Linked DNA regions of Homo sapiens. The protein of the gene in region 1 interacts with the protein of each later gene in a biochemical or structural test. Each region holds a gene or a part of one and is shown on either strand. Other genes may lie near its edges.

Region 1 (7,039 bases):
AGGACTTAGACAATAGGCAAAATATACCAATGTCTACATGTTTATGGATGCTTTCAGGAACCCTCAAATCATCACTATCATCACCATCATCATCATCATCTCTCCCATCTCCTTAAGGGGAAACAAAGTACTCTGGTCTACACTACAACCAAAAGGTGAAAAATTAAAATCTTTGAGAAAGGCAGCATTTTAATTTCATTCTCACTGTGGCATAAAACCACTAAATAAATGTATAAGAGTAGGCTTTATCAGAGAGGAGAAAATAGGAGGGACTGAAAAACAGAAAAAAGTGAATGAGAAAGAGCATACAAAACACTAAGTTGATTTTTCACCAAACTGATGCTTATGAAAAGAAAAAGAGACCAAGTTGAAAGCAGTCAATGCAAGCTTCTTACTTCTTAGTTTGCCTAACCCCATCATATTATGTAAATATAAATATATGTACGTTTTTGGCTGGGGGTGGTGGCTCATGCCTATAATCCCACCACTTTGGGAGGCTGAGGTGGGTGGATCGCTTGAGGCCAGGAGTTCCAGACCAGCCTGTGCAACATGGCGAAACCCCATTTCTACAAAAAACACAAAAATTCACTGGGTGTGGTGGTGTGCGCCTGTAGTCTCAGCTACTTAGGAGACTGAGGTGGAAGGATCACTTGAACCTAGGAGGTGGAGGTTGCAGTGAGCTGAGATCATGCCACTGCACTCTAACCTGGATGACAGAGGAAGACTCTGTCTCAAAAAATATATTTAGATGTATATAAGTTTTTTGTGGACTAAAAAGACAGTCTGGGCAAGTTTTCCCAGTTATGACAAAGTAAGAAGGACACATTACAAAATGTAGTATTTAAACTTACTGTATTTCTTTGTGTGTGTGTGTGTGTGTGTACACAAAAATAAACAGAGTAAGTGATATTTGTGTTTGTTAAATTATATAACAATACAAATATCACTTACTATGTTTATTTTTTATATAATTTAACAAACACAAATATCACTCACTATGTGCCAGAAACTGTTGGAAGTACTGTACAGGTATTAACTCATTTAATCCTCACAGTATCTCTGTGAGATAGGTTCCAGTCATTTTCTTCATTTGACAAATAGAGAAGAATCTGGACCTAGATAATGTAACTCTAGAGTCTGGGTGTTTCACCACTATAACATACTACCTTTCAAACTTCTAAGTTAAAACCATTTGAGGAAGTGTTTCTCGGTGCTGCTCTCGAGACATTTTGATACAGAATCTTGAGGTAAATCTGTAATCTGCCACTTTTAACAATCTATTTACATACAGTAAAGTTTGAGAATCACCACAAATTCCATTGCTAAATGTGAAGTCTATTCCTGCAAAGGCCCTGCATCTCACTAGCTCGTTGGCCTAAAGCAAACATATAATAACCTCTCAGCATCTCTCCCTCCTCATATATACATTGAAGACCACAGACTTTTTAGTAAAAAAGATAAAACTTGCCTCAAACTGGAAAAACTTGGCTTTTTTTTTTTTTCTGTATGTGGTATTTTAGTATTACTTTTTAAAGACTTCTCAAAGCTCTTTGGTGGGCCGGGCCTGGTGGCTCACACCTGTAATCCTAGCACTTTAGGAGGCCAAGGTGGGTGGATCACGAGATCAGGGGTTCGAGACCAGCCTGACCAACATGGTGAAACCCCGTCTCTACTAAAAATACAAAAATTAGCTGGGCGTGGTGGCAGGCGCCTGTAATCCCAGCTACTCAGGAGGCTGAGGCAGGAGAATTGCTTGACTCCGGGAGGCGGAGGTTGCAGTGAGCCTAGATCGCACCACTGCACTCTAGCCTGGGTGACAGAGCGAGACTCCGTCTCAAAAAAAAAAAAATGCTCTTTGATGAAAGGCAAAACTTTATTTGCTATCTCTACTAATTAGCCTTTATCTGACACTGTCAAGGAATGGAACATGTTACTTGGTATATCTGCCAGCATCAGACATATCACTTATTGTTTTTTATTAGTTGTTCATCCAGGGCATCTCTGGGAGATAGTTCTGAATGGTCCTGATGTAGATTTAATCCCATACAACTGATAAAGACAAAATTCTCTTCTGGCCTTGCCTGTGATATAAACCATTGGTTAGTACGTGGTTATGTCCGCTTTTATAAACATTCCTATCCTTAATAGATAAACTTTCTCCCTTTAAGCCTTCTTGAAGGTGGTATATTCATTTCCTTGCAAGCTCCAACTTTAAAGAGATTAAAAATGTTTGACACTTGCTAAAAATTATTTTGTTCAAAAATTTCTGCTAATTTTGAAAATGTAAATGACCTCTAAATAGTGAAGGGATTTACAAACTGCAAAACCTTACACAAAATTACTTTTTATTATCATTTCACTTTATCCGGGTCTCAGTGTTCCACCTATCAAGGAAAAGCTTAGGTATCTGTGAACTATTATTATATGCTCTTTATTCAAATAAATTATGTGGTTGAGATTAAGTAAATTGTGCAAGCAAGAAGCTAGAGAGATCTCTGTTTATTAGAGGAAGTTTTTCTCTAATCCTGACAATAGGGCACTAATTTACGCACCTCCAAGGAAACAAAGTACCTCTGAATGACTCTCTCTCACACCTTTTAACTCTCCCTATGCCTAAAACCATATACCTGATGTAATGACATACTGCAGAAAGACCAAATAATACAGTAGCTTCTGTAACAATATCAGAGTTCACATCATAGTCTTCTTATAGATGCTACTATTTCTGCCTGCCTCTGGATTCTGAGTCCCTTTAGACGGCTAAAATTAACTCATTTCTTCTTATATAAATAGACTTCTTGGACTCCTCATATTTTTGTCTAATCTGAAGTATCTGCGTAAGGCTTGCAAGCCAGTCTACCTCCATTGGCTCTATTTAAATTGATGGGCCCGGCACAGTGGCTCACACCTGTAATCCCAGCACTTTGGGAGGCCGAGGCGGGCGGATCACCCGAGGTCAGGAGTTCAAAACCAGCCTGGCCAACTTGGTGAAACACCATCTCTACTAAAAATACAAAAATTAGCCAGGTGTGGTGGCGGGTGCCTCTAATCCCAACTATTCGGGAGGCTGAGGCAGGAGAATCCCTCGAACCCGGGAGGCGGAAGTTGCAGTGAGCCGAGAATGTGCCACTGCCCTCCAGCCTGGGGGACAGAGCGAGACTCCCTCTCAAAAAAAAAAAAAGAAAATTGGCCGGGCGTGGTGGTGGGTGCCTGTAATCCCAGCTACTTGGGAGTCTGAGACATGAGAATTGCTTGAACCCTGGAGGCGGAGGTGGCAGTGAGCCGAGATCAGGCCACTGCATTCCAGCCTGGGCGACAGAGCGAGACTCCATCTCCAAAAATTGAAATCAAATAAAATAAGTTGATGTAGTACACTTTAAGAAATAATGCCACAGAGTGAGCTAATGTAGAGTTAGGGGTAGACAGTTGCAAGGACAAAAAGATCCCTTAGAAAAAGAAATACAGTGATTAAAATGCATTGGAATGGAAAGAGATAAGGATCTATGGAATGGGGTGGGGGTGGCAGAATTCTTCAAGAAAAATGTCAAAACTGCTACTAGGGAGGCTGAGGCAAGAGAATCACTTGAACCCAGGAGGTGGAGGTTGCAGTGAGCTGAGATCACACCACTGCATTCCAGCCTGGGTGTGACACAGCGAGACTGTCTCAAAAAATAAAAAAAAAGAAAGAAAAATCTCAAAACTAAAATTTTAAAAAGAAGAGGCTCTTATAAAGAAGGAAAACTTAAATCCACCAAAAGGTATGCTTAATTAAATCAGATTTTTCAAGGATTTGACACAGCATAGGGTGGTTCTGATTAAAAATTTAGAACTTCTTGCCGGGTGCGGTGGCTCACACCTGTAATCCCAGCACTTTGGGAGGCTGAGGCAGGCGGATGACTTGAGGTGAGGAGTTTGAGACCAGCCTGTTCAATATGGCAAAACCCTGTCTCTACTAAAAGTACAAAAATTAGTTGGGCATGGTGGCTCATGTTTGTAATCCCAAGCACTTTGGGAGGCTGAGGCAGGAGAACTGCTTGAACCCAAGAAGCAGAAGCTTATTGAACTGAGATCACACCACTGCTTTCCAGCCTGGGTGACAGAGCAAGACTCCGTCTAAAATTAAAAAATAATAATAAAATAAATAAAAAATTGACCGAGAGCGGTGGCTCATGCCTGTAATCCTAGCACTTTGGGAGGCCAAGATGGGTGGATCACCTGAGGTCAGGAGTTCGCGACCAGCCTAGCCAACATGGTGAAACCCTGTCTCTACTGAAAATACAAAAATTAGCTGGGCGTGGTGATGGGAGCCTGTAGTCCCAACGACTTGGGAGGCTGAGGCAAGAGAATCACTTGAACCCAGGGGGTGGAGGTTGCAGTGAGCAGAGATCACACCACTTCACTCCAGCCTGGGCAAAAGAGCGAAACTCCATCTAAAAAAAAAAAAGAAAAAGAAAGAAAAAGAAAAAGAAATTGAGAACTTCTTGTATAGAACATTATGAATGAATAATGATATGCATAACAATAGACCAATTTTGAGCCCAGAATTGTTTCCAAAAAATAGTTATGATTGGACAGAAAGCTTCCACTATGTCTCCTTACCCACCCTTCTCCCAATACCTGAACAATTTGCTACTCTCTTCAGTGTTTCTTGGAGATTCAGATTCTGGTGGTGAAGTTCCATTTGCTCTTTGGATTTCTCATTCAGCTTCCGAGCAAGGGTTTCTATCATTTCCTTGAGTTCGTTTTCTGACTCCTGTGAAGCTTCTTCTGCTTGTTGCCGGGCTGAGATCTGTCCCTCCAGTTTCTTTTTCTGGTGAGTTAGGTTTGCTTGCTCTTGTGTTAGGAGGTCAGACACCTGGGATACTGAATCACAGTTGCATTAAGACTCTAGTTCTAATCCAAATAAAAATCCCTCCAGGGACTTTTTGAGGAAATCAAAACAGAATTAAATCTATTTTGACAATAGATAAGCTGCTGAAAAATGACCCAGATTTACTCAGAAGTTACAGATTTGGAGGTTCTTGAATATTCCTGCAGTATTTTGTTTAATGTCAGGAACATTGCAAACACTTGTAATTTTTTTAAAAATTACCAAGATTTTGGCCAGGCACGGTGGCTCAGGTCTGTAATCCCAGCACTTTGGGAGGCCGAGGCAGGCAGATCACGAGGTCAAGAGATAGAGACCATCCTGGCCAACATGGTGAAACCCCATCTCTACTAAAAATACCAAAGAAATTAGCTGAGGGTGGTGGCACGCGCCTGTAGTCCCAACTACTCAGGAGGCTGAGGCAGGGGAATCACAGTGCCACTGCACTCCAGCCTGGCGACAGAGGGGGACTGTCTCAAAAAAAATAAAAAACAACAACAACAACAAAAAAAACCCAAGATTTTTTTTTATTGAGTTACAAATGAAAAGTAATCACAAGATAACCAGTACAGCATTAGAATAAATAAAATAAGGAAAACCTGAAACAGACACCCACCAGACTCAGTGACTATTAGTAGGAAATGTCATTAGCGATTTACTCTATTTATGTCTCAATTCCTCTGCTGTGTCTCCTCCCATTCTGTCTACTCTTCCAGACTTCCTAATTTTAAGAACTGTGACATACACCCCTTTTTTGAGACAGCCACGCACACTGTGTCACAAGAGTCTCCAAGAATTTTTTCTTTTCTTTTTTTTTTCCCCTTGGCCACGGTACATTTTAGGAAGGGTGAAGATAAAGTGAAGGTTGTGAAATCAAGCAGGCGATAACATGTTAAGGGTCAAATGTCTCAGTTCCTGAATTTTGATGGTGCAATACAAAGCAGACCGCTTGGTTTGAAGGCAGCTTTGATCCTGTTATAAGATGATCAAAGGCTCAAAAGATTTTTCTGGTCACCACCACTAAGTCAAGGGCACTTCTCCTTGTCACTAGGAAAGGCCCTAAGTATTTACAAATTTAAAATAAAATAGTTTGTGAGCTTGAACAACAGTTAGGAAGCAAATAGCACTTCAATGGCCATAATAACCTGGATCCTGGGTAGCCTAAACAACTCAGTTCTACAACCTAAATTCACAGGCAGTTCAGGTGAACGTTGGGCACCATTTTCTTTCCTTCTTGGCCACTCTGGGCCATCTTTTCACTTCTTTTTTTCCCTCAATATCTTCTCTTTTCTAAATGCTCTTATTATAAATGTGAAATATATTTTATTTTAAATGTTTTATTTATTAAGATTGTGTTTCTGGTTCTTAACATTAAAATGGTATTTAATTATCTCTATCAAAACTCAGCAAGCTAAATAAAATTTCTTTTACTTTTGGGCCTCTCAGATGATCTTGGATATTAGTAACTTTAAGTTATTATCTTCTCCATCATTCTAGAATTTAAATAGGCTCTATCCATGAGGTTGGTTTTTTGTTTGTTTGTTTTGTTTGAAATGGAGTCTCGCTCTGTTGCCCAGGCTGGAGTGCAATGGTGCAGTCTCAGCTCACTGCAAATTCCACCTCCCCGGTTCAAGCTATTCTCCTACCTCAGCCTCCTGAGTAGCTGGGATTACAAGCATGTGCCACCACACCCGGCTACTTTTTGTATTTTTAGTAGAGATGGGGTTTCACCATGTTGGCCAGGCTGGTCTTGAACTCCTGACCTCAGGTGGTCCACCCACCTTGGCCTCCCAAAGTGCTGGGATTACAGGTGTGAGCCACCGCACCCGGCCTATCCATGAAGTTATGAAAACAAAAGAAACAAAACAAAACAAAACAAACAAACAAAAAAATGCCTACCAATTGTAATTTTTATTTCATGGCTCTATCCATTGGAAGATGAACAATATACCCCTTTATTTTCATGGTCACTCTTAAAAACATTTTGCCTAAAATGAATCTATATCAAGGCTGTTTGTAGTTGTTATGAAAGAAACTTATAAACCATATTTATTAACCTCATTTCCAACACCCCTGCCCCAATAAACATCAGTTCCGTATTTTAGCACTTACATTGCATGCCCAGCACCATAATGGTCACTACTAATCCCAGGCAAAGGACCCCTAGAGTCG
Region 2 (7,039 bases), on another chromosome or scaffold:
ACAAAACATTAATAAAAAGTGATATTATTACCATATGATTACCTTACACAACTACATTAGCTCATGCTAACTAGGGCAATGATTTTTTATACAGTCTTTAGTATATGCCAAGCATCTATCTAAGAGCTTGTTAACTAGAAATGCATTTAATTCTCACAACAGGCCTATGAGGGAACTATTAATCATCCCTGTTTTTACACCTGAGGAAACTGAGGAACAGACTAAGTAACTTGCTAAAAGCTAGTCAGTAAGTGGCAGATTTAATGAACAAATAATACTTCCCCCTAAGGTGTCACCATCTTCCTTCTCACTCAATGGCATAGATTAATTAACATGCAGCAGGCCTCATATTTAAATCCAAGATTATGCTTTTCATTACAGAGCTTTCCATTCAACAGATGACTACAAAGCTTTTAATATTTTAAATTAATCAATATTTTCTACATTAGAGATTAAATGATTACCTTTCGGACATTAATGCCTGCAGTTTTTTCTCCCTGGGCATGCCGGTTTCTTAGTTCTGTTACTGTAGAAATGGGATTCAGGCCGGCATTTTCAGCTAGTGTAGATGGAATGACCTCCATAGCATCTGCAAAAGCACGAACGCAGTAGGATTCCATACCACTCAGTGTTCGTGAATATTCAGTTAATCGTAGGGCCAACTCTATTTCTGGAGCACCACCTCCTGCAATAAGAGCCCTGAAATTCACAAATATATTTTTAGCTTATTTTATCCAAAAGAAAATTATTTTTAATAATTTGCTATTTATATCTTTAAAAAATAGAATATAATAGTTTTAATGTTCAAAATGTTACTTAATAATGTAACACTGACATTACCTCTTCTTCACTAAACAACGAATAACACATAGGGCATCATGAATGGAGCGCTCAGCTTCTTCAATCACCAGTTTGTTAGAACCACGAACAACAATTGTAACTGTTTTTCCAGGGCTGGCACAGCCTGTAATCTTCAGTAAACAAATTCCAAATTAAGTATTTGAAGGGTCAAAAAAACCCCACACCCAGGCCGGGCACGGCGGCTCACGCCTGTAAACCCAACACTTTGGGAGGATGAGGCGGGTGGCTAACGAGGTGAGGAGATCGAGACCATCCTGACTAACACAGTGAAACCCCGTCTCTACTAAAAATACAAAAAATTAGCAGGGCGTGGTGGCAGGCGCCTGTAGTCCCAGCTTCCCGGGAGGCTGAGGCAGGAGAATGGCATGAACCCGGGAGGCGGAGCTTGTAGTGAGCCAAGATCATGCCACTGCACTCCAACCTGGGCGACAGAGTGAGACTCCGTCTCAAAAAAAGAAAAAAAACAACCTAAAACCCCATACCCAAACCTAAGCAAATAAAAATTTAAGTGTAATACTGTTACCTTGAGCAGTTTGCCAGAACCATTTAAATTGACCTCCTCAGCTAACTCAGCAGAACCCAGCATGTCAGCAGTAAATTGGTCAATATGAGCAACTGGCTTGGTTCCAATTGTCTGGAAAAAACAGTCAAATCCACAAATTAAGACATTTATCTAATTATCAGACATTTTCCACAAATACAGATGTTAATGTTTTACCTTACAAATGAATTCAATGTCTTCTCTTTCAATATCCTTAATCACCATGATCTTCATTTTATTCAGAAAGTGTAATGCAAGATCACTAAGAGCATCTCTAAAATACAAAATCAGTGATTATGTCAATGCTAGATTAAAAAAATTTTGCTCTTCAAATGCCTTTAAGGTTTTAATTACTGTTTCTTAAATGGCCAATCATTATTTCTGAAGAAAAATGCTTTAGTTTACTAAGTTCGTAAGGTCAAAATTAAGATTTCCAATTCTATTGGAAATTTTAGTACAATTCCAGTATTAAAATGTACTCTGTCCCCAATGACACTATAAAACACACGAAATAACTAGGTCATTATTTTTTCCCCATTTATTTATTTATTTTTATTTTTTTGAGATGGAATTTCGCTCTTGTTGCCCAGGCTTGGAGTGCAATGGCACGATCTTGGCTCACTGCAACCTCAACCTCCTGGGTTCAAGCGATTCTCCTGCCTCAGCCTCCCAAGTGGCTGAGACTACACGCTCCCGCCACCACACCTGGCTAATTTTTGTATTTTTAGTAGAGACGGGGTTTCACCATGTTGGCCACGCTGGTCTCGAACTCCTGACTTCAGGTGATCCACCCGCCTTGGCTTCCTAAAGTGCTGGGATTACAGGCATGAGCCACTGCACCCGGCTCATTTATTTATTTTTAATAGAGACAGGGTCTCCCTATGTTGCCCAGGCCGGTCTTGAACTCAGGGCTCAAGTGATCCTCCCACCTCGGCCCCACAAAGTGCTGGGATTACAGGCATGAGCCACTGTGCCTGACCTCATTTTTCTTAACAAATGAGCACATCTTGGGAAGTGAAACCTTATTAATACTTCATGAATTTAGAAGTATTAATTCAGACTCCACAAATTTACACTTCCCCATGAACTGTGAATAACAACTCTGTGATACTAGAAAGGTAGATATTACTACTATCCCTATTATACGGATAAGCAAACTGAGTTTGGGGGGCAATTTACTCAAGGTCAGTAGCTATTATATGATTGGGATTAGAACCAAGTCTTCTGAGTCTTCAAAGACTATATAAAATGAACATCCACAGTACATTCTGGCACATTAATGGAGTAAATGGGAATGCGTCTATTAGGAAAAAATACTGGCCAGGCACGGTGGCTCACATCTGTAATCCCAGCACTTTGGGAGGCCAAGGGGGGGCAGACCACGAGGTCAGGAGTGCAAGACCAGCCTGACCAACATGATAAAACCTCATTTCTACAAAAATTAGCCAGGCGTGGTGGCACGTGACTGTAATCCCAACTATTTCAGGAGGCTGAGGAAGGAAAACTGCTTGAACCTGGGAGGCAGAGGTTGCAGTGAGCTGAGACTGCGCCATTGTACTCTAGCGTGGGTGACAGAGTGAGACTGTGTCTCCAAAAAAAAAAAAAGAAGGAAAAAAGTGATCTGTCAAACTTCAGAGAATTCTTTTCATCTATGGACTATGCAGAGCATTCCCCCAAAAAGTACCTCTAAATGACAAGGCAAGCAATTGCATAGACCTTTAAATAAATTCCACTTTTAACTAGGTAATTAATTCTGCAACATGGCTTTTAAAAGAACAAGGCTTGATGTTTAGGACCTTGGTCTAGGTAAGATTATATATCCTACATTTAAAAGGGAAGATAGGGCCGGGCGTGGTGGCTCATGCCTGTAACCCCAGCACTTTGGGAGGCCAAGGCTGGCGGATCACCTGAGGTTGGGAGTTCAGGACCAGCCTGACTAACAGAGAAACCCCGTCTCTACTAAAAACACAAAATTAGCTGGGTGTGGTGGCACATGCCTGTAATCCCAACTACTCGGGAGGCTGAGGCAGGAGACTTGCGTGAACCCAGGAGGCGGGGGTTGTGGTGAACCGAGATCGCACCATTGATTCCAGCCTGGGCAACAAGAGCGAAACTCCATTTCAAAAAAAAAAGGAAGATTACGCACTTTTTATCAAAACATAATAATGCTTTTCCAGCTTGTAACTGCAAGGAAAAATAATGATACTGCTAAAAAAAAAAATGCAGATTTCTGGTGGTTTACCCAACTCAAATGTTTCTATAAAAATTGCTCTTAGAGGCTGGGTGCGGTGGCTCATGCCTGTAATCCCAGCACTTTGGGAGGCTGAGGCGGGTGGATCATGAGGTCAGGAGATCGAGACCATCCTGGCTAACATGGTAAAACCCCATCTCTACTCAAAAAATACAAAAAATTAGCCAGGTGTGGTGGCACGTGCCTGCAGTCCCAGCTACTCGGGAGGCTGAGGCAGTAGAATCACTTGTTGAACCCAGGAGGCGGAGGTTGCAGTGAGCCGAGATTGCACCACTGCACTCCAGCCTGGATGACAGAGTGAGACTCTGTCTCAAAAAAAAAAAAAAAAAAATTAAAAAAAATTGCTATTAGAAGTGTGGTTTAGACTCTAAAAACTGCATGCTTTCTTGGCCCTGTTCCTTAAGGGCTCCACCCTGAAGCCAATAATCGAAGAAATAAGTTTTTTAAAAGGCCAAAACACAACATTCTGGCAGTTAGTTGGCTATTTTAAAAAACCTACTTTTTTTTGTAAAAGAAAATTACACCTTTATTGTTTTGAATTTACAAGTCATATATTTGTTTAAAATGCTTTTCCTAGACATCTTAACTGAACTTATACCATTTTTTCCCTTGGTCTGAGCAAATGATGGTACAATATTGAGGCCTAACATTTTACCTGTGCTTTTAAAATAAAAATTCTCCATTTCGTTTCACCTAAGAGTTGTCTGTTAAGAAATACGAACTTAGAGTAAGTGCTTAAATCATATATTTTATCAGAAAAAATAAACTGCTAGTGGAGATCCAAAATTATCATTAAGGGATGAACAAAATAAATAGCCCCACACCTTAGAATAGATTTCTGTATGAGAAGGACATTACATCCTGTTTTTTTAATTTGCTTCACTAAATTTAAAATATAGGCTCTCTCTTCTCGCAGCACTCGGTCCATCTGGGCATAGTCAGAAACCACTATTTGATTATCCATCTGTTCAGAAAAAGAACATCATAATTTGCATTGTAAGATATTTTAAGTTTAAAAGTAGAATTTTAAGCGAAAATACTATGTGTTGTATAAATTCAACCAAAACTATATCAAGTAATAAATTATATAGACATGCATAGAAAAGAGTCTGGATTAAGATACACATCCCAAACTTGAGTCTTTTATTTTCAACTAAGTACACTGGTATCTTACATTTTGCAAGTAAATTTTTTATAACCAAAAAATATAAAATGGTTACCCTAGTTGTTTTCAAAAGATAGGGTCCCTCTCTAATCTGTGTGAATTTGTAAATTAACAGCAACAGTGAAAAGATGGGGTCCCACTATGTTGCCCAGGCTGGAGTGGAGTGCAGGGACTATTCACAGGTCATGGAATAGCACCCTGCAACCTCAAACTCCTAGGTTCAAGCAATTTTTCTGCTTCAATTTCCCAAGGAGCTGGGACTACAGGCATCGTTGCAAATGGCTAGCTCTCAATTTCAATATCCCAACTGAGGATACAGACTTGTCACTTGTGGCACCAACAATTACTATTTTTGTCTCAATTCTAGTAAGTCTTTTGAGATCTGCTTTAAATCACTAGTAGTATTTTCTATTTTTAATAAAGAAATGCCTGAGTTATTAAAAAGTTAAACACAGAGAACCAATTTCATTTGGATTCTACTTACGTCTGTTTTGGGAGCAGATAAGCAAAACTGAATAAGCCCAATCTTGGCCTTTTCAACTCTGGTTATGCCAGAATTTGACACTTTTTGGGTGAGAACCAGCCCTTCCACCAACTCACAGTCATCAATTGTCCCACTAAGGATAAAAGAAAACAAAGAGGGGTAGTTAAGAGGGAGTGGACATCTGTACGTTTAATAGATGAACAGATTAAAAGTCATCAGTCCAATAAAATATGATTCAGCCTCACATTTATTATTGCCCCACTCCTGGATCTCTTTGATCCACTGCTGCCTTACTATCATAAGGTAACATAAACAAAATCTCCAGATGCCCATACTAATACAAATTCTCACGAAAACAAAACCAAAAAGAGAAAAGAGAGCTTTGTGACTTTCATCTAGGTGTTTTTATTTATTTTTGGCAATCTGATGCTCATTTTCAAATTTTTATTCAAGTTGTAATTAGAGATGCTTACCCAAGCTTCTTAACTATTTTAATATCTCTAAGATCTACACTGGTGGCTGTGGCTGGGTCAATCACTTTCATCACTGCATTTACACTCATTGGAGAAAGCAGACTTGAATACTGAGAAACCACCTAGAATTATTAAAAAAAAAAAAAAGTTACCTTCACAGTAGAAAAAAGTCCTAATTTTTCAATGACAAAGATACTTAAGAAAGACTCTTATAATTTTTGCAGTGGGGTGTGGGTATGAAGAGGGAAACACTCATGAGAAGACAGTCCATAAAGTGTCTTTTCCATTCAGGTTGTCACCAGGGGCACAAAATAAAAACATGTATGCTTGCTTTTTTCTTTTATTAATATAATAGCCGGGACTGTAGAATATCAAAGTTTTACAGGAAATCCAAAAAGCATAAATTTAATTTTACGTGAGTATTTTCTATCTAAAATGAATGTGTGATGAGGCATCAATGTTATGTATGTACATTCCTGATGAGGGGTTGATAAAAATTGCTAACATTTATCAATCACTTAACATATGCCAGGCAGTGGTCTTAGAACTTTACATATTAACTCATTCAATCTTCAGATGGAGAAACTGAAGCCAAGAGGTTAAGTCATTTGGCCAAACAGCGTAGTTAAGTGGTGAAGTCAGTACTGAACAAACACAAGCAGTCTAGACTCAATGCCTAGTGCTTGTAACCATTACGCTATACTATCTGTATTAGTTCTAAGGACATCCAACAGTATCACTTAGTGTCCCTAACACTACCTAACATTCAAACAAAATGAATGTATGGACTTAATACTGATTTTTAAAAGGAAAAAGGATTAGGGGAAGGAAGGGATAAACACAGGATATTACAGAAAACAAGTGACATGAGTTCCAAAGAAATTTAAAAGCACAACACCGCTTTAAGTTTGGTAAATAAGAAAAGCAGCATAAGTATTAGTTAAGGGATGGACCACGATGGGCAGCCTGTCCTGGGTTCAAATCTCAGCTGTTTCTGTTAGCGGTCCTTGGATAAGTTACTCCTCTAGATCTACTCTTTTCATCTATAAAATGGGGATATGACTATCTGAGGGCCTTGAAGAGGACAATAAATGTAAAAAACTTATCACAATGCCCACCATATTAAATATTCAATAAAAATTAGCTATACTGCCAGTAATCTATGGCAGTCTTTCTGATTTGGTGGAGGAAAAGGTTTCTTATAGGCAAATTAAAATATCTAGCTTTATCAAAACACTGTTACAATGCATTAAACAGAAAAGTG

The links. The genes of interacting proteins can lie anywhere in the genome.
Region 2: the proteins of OLR1 (region 1) and CCT4 form a complex in vitro, tested with the Homo sapiens proteins (one study listed by IntAct).

Annotation. Positions count from the first base shown.
Region 1 is NC_000012.12:10,162,095-10,169,133, forward strand, and holds part of OLR1 (oxidized low-density lipoprotein receptor 1), read right to left. Parts: coding exon 6,980-7,039; intron 4,864-6,979; coding exon 4,618-4,863; intron 1-4,617. UniProt on the Homo sapiens protein: Receptor that mediates the recognition, internalization and degradation of oxidatively modified low density lipoprotein (oxLDL) by vascular endothelial cells.
Region 2 is NC_000002.12:61,871,618-61,878,656, forward strand, and holds part of CCT4 (T-complex protein 1 subunit delta), read right to left. Parts: intron 5,898-7,039; coding exon 5,776-5,897; intron 5,436-5,775; coding exon 5,303-5,435; intron 4,618-5,302; coding exon 4,478-4,617; intron 1,677-4,477; coding exon 1,580-1,676; intron 1,496-1,579; coding exon 1,385-1,495; intron 972-1,384; coding exon 841-971; intron 700-840; coding exon 465-699; intron 1-464. UniProt on the Homo sapiens protein: Component of the chaperonin-containing T-complex (TRiC), a molecular chaperone complex that assists the folding of actin, tubulin and other proteins upon ATP hydrolysis.